2 separate regions of the Homo sapiens genome follow, and region 1 is linked to region 2. Evidence: fine-mapped expression QTL. Tissue or cell type: adrenal gland. Region 2 holds a variant in brackets; the other region holds the start of a gene. All regions are shown on one strand. Distances are between the middles of the regions.

Region 1 (8,107 bases), 720 kb after region 2:
TATCTAGGTAACAATTACTTTTGTACCTGATGCTGATGAGAGAAGGACTCATAGTGCTTACCCCATCCTGGGTTCATCCCATCTGTTTTGGCTTAGCTCTCTGCAGGCTGCTCTGCCCTCTGACAGTATCAGGGAAGGGGCCAACAAGCCACTCTATCAATATCCCTGGGCTGATGGGCCAGTGAACTTTGGAAAACAGTCTTTCTACTGATCTGTGCCTGTGAGTAAACATAGCAACCGAACCCATAATGTTTTTAGAAGACGAAGACCACCAAATTCCCTCGTGTGCAAGCCTGGCAGCCTACTGGCCATGAGAGTCCCATCACTGGGATCTGAATCATGAAAGCAACATGACTGTCCTCCAAAAGGACAGAATAATGACCTTATGGGACAGCTGTGGTCCTTTCCACCCCCAATCCCAGGTGGCACCCACTGTGATGCCCTGCACACAAGGGACAAAAGTGGAGTTCATTGCCTTGGTACTCTAAATAGACAGCATTGGGGAGGGAGTTGTGGAGAATGTGTGTGTGACTGTATGTGACATGATGTGTGTCCCTTCTGTCCAGGGGTCTCAGGCAGGACTGACCCCCACCTCTGATGCATTCTGGGCCTGGTCCAAAGAAGTTTCAGGTTTGGATCCAACAAACGTTTACTGAGTCCCTACAAAGTTCCAAGCCTTTTACTTTATACTTTGACACATTTTTATATCATTTTATCTTTAACAATAACCCTTTAAGGTAGGAATTATCTGCATTTTACAGATGATAAAACAATCGCAAAGAGGTTCATTGATTTGCTCAAGTATATCATACAGCTTTTTTTTTTCTTTTTTTTTTTTTTTTTTTAACACACACACACTATACTCTTAGCTGAGGCCTGTCTGCGTTGGTTGCTTATCTTACAGCATTTCTTGTCTTCTCTACTTTTGGAGCGACGGCTCCCCTTTTACAAGCCCCCTTATTTCCTCTCCTTTCACTAGCCCAGGTGGGCTTTTCTTGTTTTAATACTGCATTTAATAGCACAAAAAATCACGAATACAAAGAAACTGGCAAAGGTGTTTGTCAATGATATCCCTGCCTCCTCCACTTTTCTGCTTTCATACCCATATATGTAATGGGCTACATTTTTTAGAAACTTTTCTTTTTCCCCCCAAACATATAACTGTTATGTGATTGGTCAATTGAAGCTGAAACACCCATGGAGAAAGATGTTTTACGGTTACAAGGGCACACTCCCCCCCCACCACCCCCCTCCCCCCCACACTTTCCCACACAATCTTTTGGAGGAATATAGGATATGTACCAGTGTCAGCATTTTCCTGCTCCTGCCTTCCTCACCCAGAGTGTTTCTACCATTTAATTTCCCTTTCATCAACTGCTTAGACTAGAGCCTCTTCTCCCTCCCCTTCTATTTCTCTTCCAATCAGGACCTTTTGGACACTGGGTACTGTTCAATTCTTACTCTGTCAGGCCCATGGGCCATGGTCAAGTAGGTCCTTTAGATCTCGATGCCAGTTGTAGTATTGGTGTCGTCATCTTCCATTGCAGGTAGGTCTGTGTGTCACTTCAGTAGGCTTGTGTGTTCATTTCTTTCACTTTTTCTGACTCATGTTCTAGCACCTGTTTGTGATAGAACAGTAAATACCCTTCACTGTCCAGTACGTCCTTAATACTGGCCTTAGTGATGACGGCATCATCACACTTGAACCACTGGTCCTTGTGGTGCCGGATGAAGCTGGTATAGTGGCCACTCTCCAAGGTTCCTTGGTGATTAACCACAGCAAACAAGGAATACTTATTTTCGTTGTTTCCACTATTGGTTGGCAGCTGCAATTGTCCATTCATTCTGCTCTCTTTACTTGAGGCCATAAACGGCGTCATATCCAGCTCCAGAGGAAAGGAAATGTATGTAGTGATCTTGCGCCTCTGTTTCGCTGAATGTTCAAACCGTTTGAAATGAAAACAGGCAACGACAGGTAATTTATTCATTGTGAGCTGTTTGGTAGATTCCTGGTAGCTTTGGCAACTACCACATTTGATTTTGGCACTGCTTCCTAAGTGCTCTGGCCTCGTAAACCTCCGCAAGCAGTCCGTGAGGGTGGTGATTCCTGGTATGTGGCTTTCCCCGTTCACACTGCTCTCCCTCCCTGGGCTCATGGGCCAGAAGGAGGTGCAAGAGCCAGGCAAGTCCAAACTAATGTCCCAGCATGGGTCTATCGTGGTGGAGACGCCATGGCAGGCTTGACAGGTGACATCAGACTGCAGGCCACCTGTGAAGATTTGGTCTATGATGCAGTTACAGTGGTTGGGATTGTTGGCCGCCTTCCCGACATCATCACCTTTGCAGTGCCTGTGCAGGACATCTAACGCTGCAATGAGGAACTCGTGGGCATCCTGTTGCCTGTACCCTGCTAAATGGCGGGCATGTATCCACACCAGGTGCAGTAACTTATAGGGCACATGAGGAGACGGGTTTCCAGAATACAACTCCCGAAACAGCGACGACATCTCACAGACCAGACACAACTCGGGACTCGGCATCTCACATCGGTGCCTGTCAGAGAGAAAGAAATCTCTCAGTATCGGCGTGTGGGTGAGGGCCTGGACAATGCAGTTCATAAAGCACGTGTTGCCAAGATTGATGAGTCCTCTTAAACCGATCGTAAAGCTGGAGGTGATTCTTCTTCTCCTCGGGTTGTGCCCCAGCAGTTCTAATTCTGGTTTGGTTGTTTCCCAGGTTGGGAATTTCTCACCAAGGCCTGGCACTGAACACTGCTGGTGAGAAACCTCTGTTGAGGTGGAGGCTTGTAATTTCAAAGCTTCTCCTTGCTCTTCTTTGGCAATTTGCTCAATGTCTTTGTCATATACATAGTCCTTACACATAAAGCAGTATATACCTCCGTAATACAGGTCTACTGCTAAGTTGTGTTGTTTCGTCTCTGCGTGCTCGTGAATGTGTTTCTCCGTGAAGCAGCCAAAGAAGACACAGGAAAGGCAAGAGTGGAGTCTGTTCAGATGGGTGCCACACACATGGCAGATGCAGGACTTTGCCTTGCTTTTCCTGGTCTCTGGGGTTCCACACCACACGAAGCACTGGTAGATAACCCGCAGTTCCTGCCTCCAGTTCTCTCCCACCTTAAAGCTGTTCACGTGAGAACAGCCTGGTGGCCCCACGGCAAAATCCACATCCAGGCATCCGCCCCCAGGGCCGCGCCGGGGCCGGGGCCGGGGCGGGGGCCGGGGCCTAGGCTGCGGCGGGGTACGGAGCCGGGTCTGGGGCCGGGGCCGGGGTCGGCGGCGCGGCGCACGACTGCGACGCGGAGAGGGATCGGGGGGCCGCGGTGGATCGGAGGGAAGGGTGGGGGGAGGAACCTCGTCGCTGTTGCCGCCACCGCCGCTCCGCGCTGGGTTCTCATCCTCCAGCTCCTGCTTCGGCTCCTGCTCCGCCTCCCGGACCGGCTCGGGTTCGGGCTCCAGCTTGAGCTCAGCCCGGCGGCCCGGACCCTCCGCCGTCTCCACCTTCCCAGCGGCGTCCACCTTCCCCGCCGTCTCCACCTTCTCGGTGGCGTCCACCTTCCCCGCCGCCTCCGCCTTCCCCGCCGCCTCCGCCTTCCCCTCCACCTTCGCCTCCGCCTCCACCTTCCTCTCCGCCTTCTCCGCCGTCTCCGCCTCCTCTACCTCCTCCGCCTCCACTGGCGGCGGCTCCTCCCCCTGCTCGCAGGGCTCGGGCGGCCACTGGGCGTGGCGGCGCGGGGGCCACGCAGACCTGGGGTGTCCCCCGCCCGGCCTGAGGGAGCGCGGTGGCTGTGGCAGCTGGACCCAAAAGGGACTTTCACTGAAGGAGGCGGCGGCGGAAGCAGGCGACGCCCCCGGGAATCCTCCCGCCGAAGCCCCCTAGTGGAGGCTGCTTCTGCAGCCAGGCCCCGTTTCCTTTAATTCAGTATTTTCCAAACTTGCTTGTTCACGAGAATCACGTGGGGAGCGTGTTAAAATTACAGATTCCTTGGCTCCACCCGCAGGCCTACTGAATCAGAATCTCGAAGGGAGGTACTCCGGAACCTGTATCTCTAACTAGGGCCCCAGAGGCTGCTTATGATCAGGCAAGTTTGGGAAACACAGCTCTAATTCATTGAGGCTGGCGGGAAGGGGGGCGGGGACCGCGCAGTCTCTTTAAGGCGCTTCCAGCTCTCGGCTCCAATCGCTGCTCTGACCCCCTTCATCGTCTCCTCCCCTCTCCTCGTCCTTCCCCTCGTCTATGCAGGCTTCCCTCGGCCACTGCGGGGCTGGGGGCCGAGCGGGTGCCAAGTCCAGAAATGTTTCTGAGGCTGTGAAATGTCCCCTCTGAGGGGGGTCCTAGGGAGCGCAGGCAGAAGCCGTGACAGGCCATCATTTCGGCGGCCGAGCCTGCCTCTAGCCTCGTCCCTGTCTCCCTTCCCACGCCAGGTCCTGCGCTTCCCGAAAAGGATGAAGCTCCAGCTGCAGTTCTGGGGAGGCCTGGACCCCAGCTCCGGGGGGGCCGGGCTACCAAGGCCGCTGGGCCTGGAGAGGCGCGTCCCTGGCCCATCTTATCAGCGCTCTGCAGGGTCTGGGCCTGCTGCTCGCGTCCTCCTGGGCTCCCAAGGCCACGGGTGGGTTAATGGCTTGACAGCCGGCCTCCTGGCCCAGCAGACGCTGAGCAGCCCGATGGCACAATCCACCTCTTCTCTCCAAGGCCAGCTGGAGGGACGAGGCACGACAAGGCCATCCCTACAGCTGGCACTTCCCCTACAGCTGAGAGGGGGCCTAAACTACAGGACACACTCCCAAGACCCTTAAGCCCTGGCAGCATCCCGGGGGAGGGGGGCAGCAGGTGGAAGTGGAAAGAAGCCTGTGGAGCTGCCAGCAGGGAGAGGGAGTCGGACATGAGGCTGAGAGGCCTCTGGGAACCCCTGTGCCAAGGGGCTGCTGGCACTGGGCAGCAGCACCCCAGAGCCCACGAGGAGTGTGCCCAGAGCAAGTGGCTCAGACCTGGGTCATGGCTCGAGGGTGTCGGGCTGTAGCTGCTGGTCCCAGAGAGTGCAGCCCAGGGCAGGCATCAGGACAGGAGTAGGAGGAGAAAGAGTGTTCTAGGAAGAGTCTAGTCCCCTAATCCTGGTGGTGGCTGGCTGTAGCCTAGTGCACGCTGTCTGGCTTGTGTGGCTGTGCTGCCTGAGTATACATACCCTAGCAACATTCTCCTTGCTCAGCACTGGACATCAGCTCTCCACCTGGCCCCTTCCTCTAGGGAGGGGATGGGGAGGCCTCCTAGGGTTAGCAGCAGGAGTTGGGCCTCAGGAATCAGGAGCCCTTGAAAGGAGGATGCGTGGTTCCCATAAAACTGAGGGTTGCCCTGGGCCCTACCCTTCCTGAGTCAGCTCTTGCTTCAATTCCTTGAAGCACCCCAGCATCCTTTCAATAAATGCCTGCCCTTTGTGGCCTGCAACCAGAGGAACTGCAACTAGCACACTCACTGAAGGAATCCTGCTGCTGCTGCTGCTGCTAAAAACAACCGAGGTCATGGATGAGGGGGTGGAGGATACTCTCATCCCACCTCCAGACTGACAACAAAAAGACCTAAAGATCTCTGTGTACCTGGGACTGTCTACCATTGAAGATTAGCCATGGTAACTTGTTGACTTAGTGATCAACTTCCTGCAGAAGCCCATAGGTCCACCTGGACTCTGCCCAGGCCAGCGTGTTCTGAAAATGGAGGGCTCTGTCACCATTCACTCAACAAATGTTTATTCTGCACTGACCGAGGGCCAGATGTACCAAGAGCTGTGGACACAGCACTCCAACTTACTCCAGGGCTACTGAAATCAGGGATGGCTTCCCCAAAAGGCACACTAAGGAAAGTCTATGTCACTAGCAGAGAAGAGGCACCAAAGACAAAAAATCAAAAAAGAAAAAATACCAGAAACAGTTTGACATTTGATTTTTTTTAAGTAGTCCTCGTGGGAAAAATCAGAACTTTGTTGTACTTCCTTACATTCATTTCCTGATTACATGATGCTTTTGTTTTGAATCACGTGTGGAGGGTGTCACCAAAATCTTTAGATGCTTTGTCCTTATGTGGATCTGGACCCAGATCCTAGCAAATGTTACCATCTCTGCCTCACAAAGATCTGACAGAATGCAGGCAGTTGGGGCTATCCTTAGGAGAGACAGCTCTCCTTCGCAGTAGATGCACCTGGGTGATAAATCCAACTCTGACCACAAGGTGGCAAAAGAGTAAATGACAATTCCTCATATATGTTTTGTATGTTTATATAAAACTATTGGTTTATATAAAATGCTCTCTAAAAATATTAAGAAAAACGTGTGCTCCTTCACACATTTTTGGGTTGATGTCTGATATTTTGCATCACAAATGTCAATTGGCTACAAATAATGTAATTTGTGACAAATGTTAATATTCAAAAATAAAACTGTTATGTCACTATTTCACATGAATCCGGTGAAACCTAAATACCTTAGTGACTTGAGAGCCACCATCATCTGTTTTAAAAATGTATAACTGAGCTCTTCTTTGATACTTGGAAGTTGTACATTTTCCCTTTTCTCAGCTCTTAATTCCATTCTGTTTTTCCAACAGAATTTTGTCTCAATAATTGTCTGTTTTTTCACTTGAAATGTTTTTGATTATCCTATCGTATTTCTCTGCAGCAAAAATGTGTATATATTTTTCAATTTAAATGCTCTTTAAATGTTCCTCTGATTATAAGGCTCTAAGTGTTGTTTAAAAATTTGCTCTTGTTTGAATTATCATGACAATTAGTATTAGAATAAAATGGATCAAAACATTGTGAATATATTACAAATTTTGATAGGTAATTATTAAACGTAAAACAAAAGTTCATTGTAGATAGGGCTTTTTTAAAAAAAATTAATGGGTGTATCCATGGATAAACATTGCTTTTTGCTAGAATGAGATAGGCTTCAGCATCAATTCTCTTCCTATTTTTTGTTTGGTTAAATGTTAGCACACAGAAACCTCATTTATATGAATAAGTGAATAGGAATGGACATTTTGTTTTAGCAATGCACGCAAGTCTTTGAATTCCTTTGGAGATATATGGGGGGAAATTACACAATGATTTATCCTCAAAATTATTTCTCATGATTTATCAGCTGATAACTTCATAGGTTTTTTCTTCAATTCTACTGGAAGCAAAGAATTGGAAACCATCTGAGTTGCAAAAGGATTTTATCCCCATTCATTTGTTAGAGCAAGTTGTTTGTTTACCATCGTCAGCATTGTTCGGAATTGTCTCTCCTGTGCCCCAAGGATTTTACATCACAGGGCAGCGCACCCAGGTTAAGATTCAGGATAGGTAAAAGATATGCTTTTTCTTTTGTAAAGTGCAAAAAGGACCATTGTGAAAGGGGAGATAGAAAAAGAGAACCAGTTTGATTCCTACACTGCAAGTATGTTCTCTGGCAGGTCAATTTTAAAAGACTACACAGGAAATTTGAGGATATAGAAATTGATCCCCTTAAAACTCCTGTACTCCAGGGTGATGCACATTCCACTTTAAAAGTTGCTAGTTTATATTTATTATTATAAAAGTAATATATACAATATTCGTGTTTTTTTAATAACAAGGTATACAAGGCATAACATGAAAAGTTAAAGCTCTTCCCTCCCCCGCCAATCACACCCATTTTTATTCCCCTGAGATAACTACTTGTTAGCACTTTCACATTTAGCCTTTAAGAAATTGTCTATGCAAATACAAGCATGTTTTATACATGCAGTTGTCCCTTGGTAATCCGTGGGAGATTGGTTCCAGGACCCCTGTGGATACCAAAATCCATAGAGATTCAGGTCCCTGATATAAAATGTTGTGTAGTATTTGCATATAACCTATACACAGCCCCTCATATACTTTGAATCATCTCTAGGTTACTTTGAATCATCTCTAGGTTACTTTGAATCATCTCTAGGTTACTTTTTGTATCATACCTGATACAATGCAGATGCTATGTAAATAGTTGCCGTACTCTATTGTTTAGGGCAGCGATCCCTAACCTGTTTGGCACCACCAGGGACCCGTTTTGTGGAAGACTTTTTTTTTTTAACGGCGGTT
Region 2 (8,107 bases):
TGATCACTTGAGGTCAGCCTGGCCAACATCATGAAACCCCATCTCTACTAAAAGTACACACACACACACACACACACACACAAACACACACACAAAATTAGCCTGGCATCCATGACATGCACCTGTAACCTCAGCTACTTAGGAGGCCGAGACGCAAGACTCGCTTGAACCTGAGAGGCGGAGGTTGCAGTGAGCTGAGATCGTGCCACTGCACTCCAGCCTGGGCAACAGAGTGAGACTCCATCTCAAAAAAAAAACAAAGTGCCAGCAAGTATTTATTAAGTTGCATCTGGTAAATGAAGTTTAGTGCATGGATACCACTTACCCAATGCCAAAAAGTTTGGTGGTGACATGGAGATCCCTACCAGACGGATAGAAGGTGCTTGCCCAAAAGACTGGAGTTGCTCATGACTTGCCCAAGTTTCCTTTGTTTCCAGTGACTAGGATAGAGCCCACCATCTGTTCCTTGGATTCCAAAACAGAGGTTACAGGCACAAATCAGTTTCTGTTGATCCCCATTCTCATCCTTTGTCTTCTCCTGTTTAATTCCCCTAGATACAGCTTATCGAAAGCATCAGCAGAAAACTTTCTGTCTTGCGGGAGGCCCAGCGAGGGCTGCTAGAGGACATCAATGCCAATTCTGCCCTTGGGGAGGAGGTGGAGGCCAACTTAAAAGCCGTCTGCAAATCCAATGAATTTGAAAAGTACCACTTGTTTGTTGGGGACCTGGACAAAGTGGTCAACCTGTTGCTGTCACTCTCTGGACGACTGGCCCGGGTGGAGAATGCTCTGAACAGCATCGATTCAGAGGCCAACCAGGAGAAGGTAGAGTTGGGGTCTGTGGGGTGTGGGTAGAGGGAAATACCATTTGTTTCTTCTCAGGGCTCCCTCTTTCAAGTTGGGCTACTATAGGAAACAGTAGAGCATGGGATTAAAAGCATGTGAGCACTGAGGATGGGCACGGTGGCTCATGTCTGTAATCCCAGTACTTTGGGAGGCCAAAGCGGGCAGATTGCTTCAGTCCAGGAGTTTGAGACCAACCTGGGCAACTTAGTGAATCCCCATCTCTACTAAAAATACAAAAATTAGTCTGGCAGGGTGGCGCATGCCTATAATCCCAGCTACTCCGGAGGCTGAGGTGGAAGGTTTGCTTGAGCTTGGGAGGCGGAGACTGCCGTGAGCAAAGATTGTGCCACTGCACTCCAGCCTGGGTGACAGAGCAAGACCCTGTCTCAAAAAAAATAATAATAATAAAATAAAAAAATAAGAGTGTGAACACTGGCTTTTAAGTGCCCTGAAATTCTTGCCCTACCATTTATTAGCTGTGTGACTGTGGACAACTTACATAACGTCACTCTGCCTCAATCTCTTCACCTGTAAAATGAGGTGAGCATACTACCTGCCTTATGGGATTATTGTGAGAATTAAATTAGTTTATGTTAATTACATAAAACAGGGCCTGGGACAGGGTAAACACTGAATCAATGCTAGCTCCCAGTAGTAGTAGTAGCAGCAGCAGTTTTGCCTCACTCTAGAGTTGGAGGGGGAGGTCTCATCAAGTATTTGAGATTGGAAAGCTGTCAGTTTCACAGGTTGGGTCACTATGCATATACTCCTGAACCAAAATTGCATCACCTTTCCCTATACAGGTGGCTTTGGATATACCTTTGAATCCACAACAAGAGGCACATATCTACATACATATACATACATACACAGACACATACACTCACACATATCCACTCACACAGACACACACATCATACAGAAAGCACCTCCACAGTGACAGTTGTTCACCAGGTGAAAGGGACACAGGCTGGCTTTGTCAGAGCCTTCCTCCACCCCAAGCCCAGTGGTGGTCCCTACATTGAAGACAGCGTTAAAGAGATGGAAAGAGGTAATTTCACATCCCCTATCCAGAATTGTTGTCATGTTTACCCTCCTGCTACAGGAAACAAAGGCTTTTGCATGGAGGTAGACTTCAGGGCAGAAAATCTAGGACTGACTAATTAGCAGAATGTATAGCTGCTTTGTGGCAGCATCTCTGGTGGAGTACTGCTAGGCAGCACTGTTGGACAGATGCCTGGTAATTGAGAGAGCCCTTACTTGGTCCTCTGCTTCCCCAGTTGGTACTGATAGAGAAGAAGCAGCAGCTGACGGGGCAGTTGGCAGATGCCAAGGAGCTGAAGGAGCACGTGGACCGCCGGGAGAAGTTGGTGTTTGGCATGGTCTCCCGCTACCTGCCTCAGGACCAGCTCCAAGATTACCAGCACTTTGTCAAGATGAAATCTGCTCTCATCATTGAACAGCGAGAGCTGGAGGAGAAGATCAAGCTCGGGGAAGAGCAACTCAAATGTCTCAGGGAGAGTCTACTCCTGGGGCCCAGCAATTTCTAATTCTACCAGCACTCTGCCACAGCATCCCTGCCCAGCCATGTGGGAAGTGCTTTCAATCTTCTTTGTTAGCAGTTTCTCAGCAAGTAGATAGCAATTAGCAGTTTGTTCCAGCCCTCTACCCTGGATGTCTCTCACTACCCCTTCCCTAGCAGTGGTCCTAACCAGCTAGGAGACCCTGGGGAAGCCACAAGCTTCTACCCAAGGGAGCTGCAGCAAGGTGTGATCTTAGAACCACACTCTCCTTCCCACAGTTGCCAAGGGCAAGTACTTGCTGCACAGAGAACCAAGGAAGTGCCTTCATTCTGCTTTGTACTAGGACACCAAAGACATCAAGTACTCATCACCCACCCATATCATCAACAGCCTCTAAAGGCTCAGAGGGAATCTGCCTTGCAGCTCTACTCTGCCCCAGGGCTTGTGGCCAGCCATTTCTCACAGAGAGCTGGCTGCCTTGAGGGCATTCACCTGGCACCAGTTTCAGGGCCTCACCCAAGCTTTGCAGGGGAAAGCACAGAGGGAGGAATTACACTGAAAAAAATGCAAGCAAAGGTTGAGTACCCCCAGGTGCCCCTTAGGAAGGAACCAGGTTTAAATAGGCTCTACCCTTACCTTTCCCAGCAGCAAGTTCAGGGGAAGAGGCCTACTCTTAGCCCTGGCTAGTGTGACCCTCTTCCTGTCCTAAGACTTTGGTCCTACCACCTCTTGTTTCATCTTTCCTTTACATTGCTGGGGGTTACCGCAGGTGCCTACCCCAGGGCTTCACCATATGGGCCATTAATAGCTCTACTAAAACTGACTTCTAGATGTAGGTTTCATTATTGGGGGAGGGGGTTCTTATTGTTATATTTTAAATGGCCTTTTGATTTTATTTATTTTTATGTTTTGATTATTTTTTTCTTTTTTAACTAATAAGGCGAGAAGAGGGAAGTTGGAGAGGGAAAAGTTAGCCCAGAAGGAAAGCATTTTCTGCAGATCAGCCTGAATCCACCGTGGCTAGGTAAGCAAGTGCCAAGGCGTTGAATTGTTCCCACCATAGCTACCGATGTCTAGGAAGGAGTTTTCCCCTTGAACTCAGAGCCTCCCTACTGTGGCCTGGCCTTGTGCTTCCCTTAAAGTCTAAGTGACTTGAGTTTAGCATTCCCCAGCAGGGTTTAAGTTTTTCTTACTGATTTCTTTTTGAAACCAAAGAAATCTCCTGAAATGGAGAAAGGTTCAGTCATTTCTCTACCATCTCCAAGCTATGGGATCAGTAGAGGTGAGCTCAGAAGGAACTCCTCTAACCATTGCTTTCTCAGCCTGTGGCCTGGCTCAAGGGAACCAAAACTCAAGGTAGCTGGGAGCTCCAGCCAGAGCCAGCTCCCCAGAGCAATTGAAGACCCAGCCAGGATCTTAGGCATACAAACAACTAAAACTGCTGCTGTTGCCAAGGCCCTGACACCAGTAGCTAGTTTCTATGCTGGAAAAGCAGCCCTCAGGTGGACGATGGCAAGAAGGGGGTTATGGCCAAATGCTGCCCTGTTATCCAGCTTAGCTCCCTGTTCCTCACTAACTGGGGCCAATCCTTGGTATCACACAACCCAGCCAAGGCCTGGCATCTCTTCTAGTTACTGCTGAGTTCCTCAGGGTCCTTGAAGGTCAACTGTAGCAGCAGGGATGTCTCATTCAACCAAAGAATTTGCCAAGGAACTTTTGCTGCTGTTACAAATACTTGTCACTAGCTTCCATTTCCTCTTC[A/G]TTGTATTTGAAAACAATGGGAGAATCTTGGCCAGCAGGGTGTCCTGGGGTAGGGGGTGGGGTAAGCCTTTCTGTGGAGCTCTGGGTTTGCTCTTAGTACTGCTGCCAGAAACACTGTTAGAATGGCAACCCTGCCATTCTCCCCTCCAGTGGAAGATTCTACTTTATTCAGGAAGGCTGGTGGCTTGCAGGGGCTAGGCTTACACAAGCCAGCCAAGATTGAGAAGGTAGGGGAGTGCTTTCAATGGAGGCCATAGTTGTCATCTTTTCTTCTGAGCAGGCTCTAGGACAAACAATGAGCAAATTGAGATGTCCTGTATTGGGAGGATGAGGCTGATATGTTTCATCATTCTCAGAATTTGTGGGCTAGAGCACCTTTTTGGGAATATGGGCCTAGGGAAAAGAACGGTCACTTACCTGGACACTATGGCCATAGTCTTGAGTTTTTCTAGTCAGCATGTGATTGGTTGTACCTTAAGTTTATGACACCAAAAATACTATTAACTCTGTTATTTTTGTTCTTAATCCCATCTCAAATTAGTTTCTAGAGTTAGAATCAGAACACAAGGATGCTCATTTTCACATGGAGGGAAAGTTGCCAAAGCATTTAAAAAATAACCCCAAAAGTATATCTAGCAGTGAAGCTTGGTAGATAAAGGTGAACTGCTAAACAGACACTGGCGTGCCACACTCCTGCCAGGGCAGTCTCATTGTGTGTGACGGTGCTGCAACACTGCCAGTATTACTTGAGATGCAGTCTCTCTCCCCTGTTCTCAGTTCCTGGGCTCAGCCCTCCTCCAAGGCCTGCCAGTGAGTAGCAGTTTGGAAGGCAGGCCAAGGGAGATCCCCAAAGACAGTTATCAGTCTTAACTTCTGCTGTCTCCCGTCAAATACTTATACAGGCCCCCATGGGTAATAGGCAAGCATGATGGCTGATAGAGAAGTCAGTGCATGAGTTACTATCACATGTCCCCCCAACCCCTCCTGCCACCTCCCAGGGCTCTGGATAATTGAATCTTCCTGAGTCCCACAGCTGGAGACTCAACCAGGATATAGCTGTAAATGCCCAAGTAGAATCTGACAGAATAAGACAGAGACACTGAAAATAAAGCCCTAGAAAGGAAGAAATTGGAAGCAAAGAAAAGGAGAGGTGAAAAGATAAAAAGCCTCCTTCAAGGTTAGGTTCAGGTTCTGTTTTCCATTTAACCTCATGTGCCATAAAGCTGCCCAGGCACACCAGAGCCACATCCTGAACCCGACCCTCCCTGACAGTGCTGCTCTGCCAGTAGCAAGCCCCAGATGGAGGAAGCTGGGCCCATTTCTGGCCACTTCCACCCATTTGGAGCTTTGCCAGAGGAGTCGTCTATGCCAATAATATTTCTGCAACAGCATATTATATTATTTGAAGATTAGTAGATCTTTTTGGGGGGGTGGGGCAGGGGACAGTTTCTATAGATGAAGAACCAGTGTTGGTTGTACAGCTGTTGGGGGTCATCTATCCCATGTGAAGCTATTCTTTTTCCAAATCTTGTTGTTTCTGCATTTGTGTCCTCCACCACTCCCTTCTTGGCTGACATAGATATGCCTGCCAGATTGTCATCAAGGGTCATATTTCAATAAAAGGTGCTAAGGACAAAAAAAAATCTCATGTGTTTTAACTCAGGTGATGGAAGTCTAAAGATTCTGCTGAAAAGTACTGGAAAGGAATTTGGTCACCTATCCATAGTCCTTCACAGATAAACATATGACCAGACCCTTACCCACATCCCTAAACCCTTACCCTGGCCTCTGAGGGATGGTATTGATGCTATACCATTCATCATCCCCAGTTAAATAGCAGGATCTGCCATAGCCTTTTTAGGGGAACAGCTTTTAGACATCTATTTCAAGACCATCCTGAGTAGGGGGTACAGAGTTTAAGCCATTGGTTATTTCTGTTGTTATCACAGTATTGAAGCATGGTATTTTTCTACTCAGAAGGATCTCAGGATCACAGCCCTGCCCTTTAGCTCACTGATATATTTCTTCCTCTCTGGTTACTCAGTGGCAACATCACATCCAGTCTAACCCCATGTTTAGAATGCAGAAAAAGTCAACAATAGGTGTAATCTCAGGTATAGACCTAAGCAGTATACAGAGTCTAGTTCTGGAGTCTAGCCTGATCGAAGGTAAGCCATTCTTTCTAGACTTCTTCCAATCTTGAATTCTGTCTAGTATTTTCATCTTACTTCTAGCTGATAGTCCAATCTCACACCTTCATGCTCAGCTCCCTGGAAAGCAAGGGCCTTGGTGATCTGCTCTCCAAGGCAACCTCAAAGATTAGACTCAAATGTATTCCAGGAAGCAACTCTGACATTGAAAAGCTTTCTTTTTTCGTGATCCATATTCTGTTCACATTCCAACTATCCTCCTTCTACTCAAGATATCCATTGTGGTAGAGTAGAAAGAGTCCAGCTTTGGCATTAGAATGAACTGTGTTCAAATCCTGGTTCTGCCACTTATTCAATGAACCTGGGCTACTAGCTCAACTTCTGAGGTCATTTTCTTATCTGTAAAATGGGAACAGTATTATCTTGCTTGCAGTTATTGTAACTTGAAAATAATAAATAAAAGCCACTAACAATCCAAGAAGTTATTAGGCAGAATCCCAGGCCCACCCCAAACCCAGTGATAGCAGTCTGAATTTTAACTAGATTTCCAGGAGATTCATGAACATATTACAGCATGGGAAGTACTGACTTGTTGAAAACATATTCAGTACATGGTAACCATTATTATAGTCCTGATCTACTCAATTCATTTTTTCCTTATCCCAGGCATATTCTTGCTCTTCTCGTGTTGCTCACAACTACCTGCCTGGATGAATTTAGGAAAGTTGCAGGATACAAGGTTAAAACACAAGATCAAATGAACAATCCGAAAATGTTATTAAGAAAACAGTTCCGGCCGGGCATGGTGGCTCACGCCTGAAATCCCAGCACTTTGGGAGGCCGAGGCAGGTGGATCACGAGGTCAGGAGATCAAGACCATCCTGGCTAACACGGTGAAACCCTATCTCTACTAAAAATACAAAAAATTAGCCAGGTGTGGTGGCACGCACCAGTAGTCCCAGCTACTCGGGAGGCTGAGGCAGGAGAATTGCTTGAACCTGGAAGGCAGAGATTGCAGTGAGCTGAGACCACACCACTGCACTCCATCCTGGGCAACAGAGTGAGACTTTGTCTCAAAAAGAAAGAAAGAAAGAAAGAAAGAAAGAAAGAAAGAAAAGAAAGAAAGAAAGAAAGAAAGAAAACAGTTCCATTTACAATAGCATCAAAAAGAAAAAAGTACTTAGGAATAATTTAACAAAAGAAGTGCGAAACTTTTACACTGAAAACTATAAAACATTGTTGAAAGAGATTAGAGAAGATCAAAATAAATGGAAAGACACTCCATGTTCATGGATTGGAAGACTTAGTATTGTTAAGATGAAATGTGCCCCAAATTGATCTACAGATTCAATCCAGTGCTTATCAGAATTCCAGTGGCTTCCTTGTGTAAGTTTACAAGCTGATTCTAAAATTCATATGGAATTACAAGGGACCTGGAACAGTCAAAACAATCTTTAAAAAGAACAGTTGGAGGGCTCATACATCCCAACTTCAAAACTTACTGCAAAACTACAGTAATCAAGACAGTGTGGTACAGACACAAGGGTAGGTGTATAAATAAATGGAATTAAATTGAGAGTCCAGAAATAAATCCTCATGTATATGGTTAGTTAATTTCAACAAGGGTCCCAAGAGAAATTGAGGAGAGAATAGTTTTTTAACAAATGATGCTGAGACAACTGGGTATCTACATGGGAAAAAATGAAGTTTTCCTTAAATCACATGCAAGAATCAACTCAAAATGGATTATAGAATGTAAGAGTCAAAATTATAAAATTCTTAGAAGAAAACATTGTAATAAGTCTTCCTAATGTTAAGACGATTTGC

Direction of the effects. Alleles are on the strand shown, and positions count from the first base shown. SD is a standard deviation of normalised expression in the study named.
For the expression in adrenal gland of the gene that starts at base 3,834 in region 1, allele G in region 2 goes with a higher level than allele A (large effect, 0.93 SD a copy in GTEx).

Evidence for each region. PIP is the estimated chance that this variant, and not a neighbour inherited with it, causes the effect.
Region 1: it holds the start of USP27X-DT, and the variant in region 2 is fine-mapped to the expression of USP27X-DT in adrenal gland (GTEx, PIP above 0.99).

What each region holds. Positions count from the first base shown.
Region 1 is chrX:49,875,083-49,883,189 of GRCh38, reverse strand. USP27X-DT (USP27X divergent transcript) reads left to right here and starts at 3,834. Exons shown (of 2, transcript NR_026742.1): 1 at 3,834-4,099; 2 at 4,443-6,466. It overlaps USP27X (ubiquitin specific peptidase 27 X-linked), which reads right to left and starts at 3,706. Exons shown (of 1, transcript NM_001145073.3): 1 at 632-3,706. The coding sequence starts at 2,882. The coding sequence ends at 1,566. RefSeq lists silencers at 3,355-3,434, 3,475-3,884 and an enhancer at 7,826-8,107.
Region 2 is chrX:50,590,984-50,599,090 of GRCh38, reverse strand. SHROOM4 (shroom family member 4) reads left to right here. Exons shown (of 9, transcript NM_020717.5): 8 at 556-825; 9 at 2,127-8,107. The coding sequence ends at 2,396. Among named protein-coding and RNA genes, the nearest start is that of DGKK, 120 kb to the right of the region's middle. The variant A/G (reference allele first, on the strand shown) is at 4,131.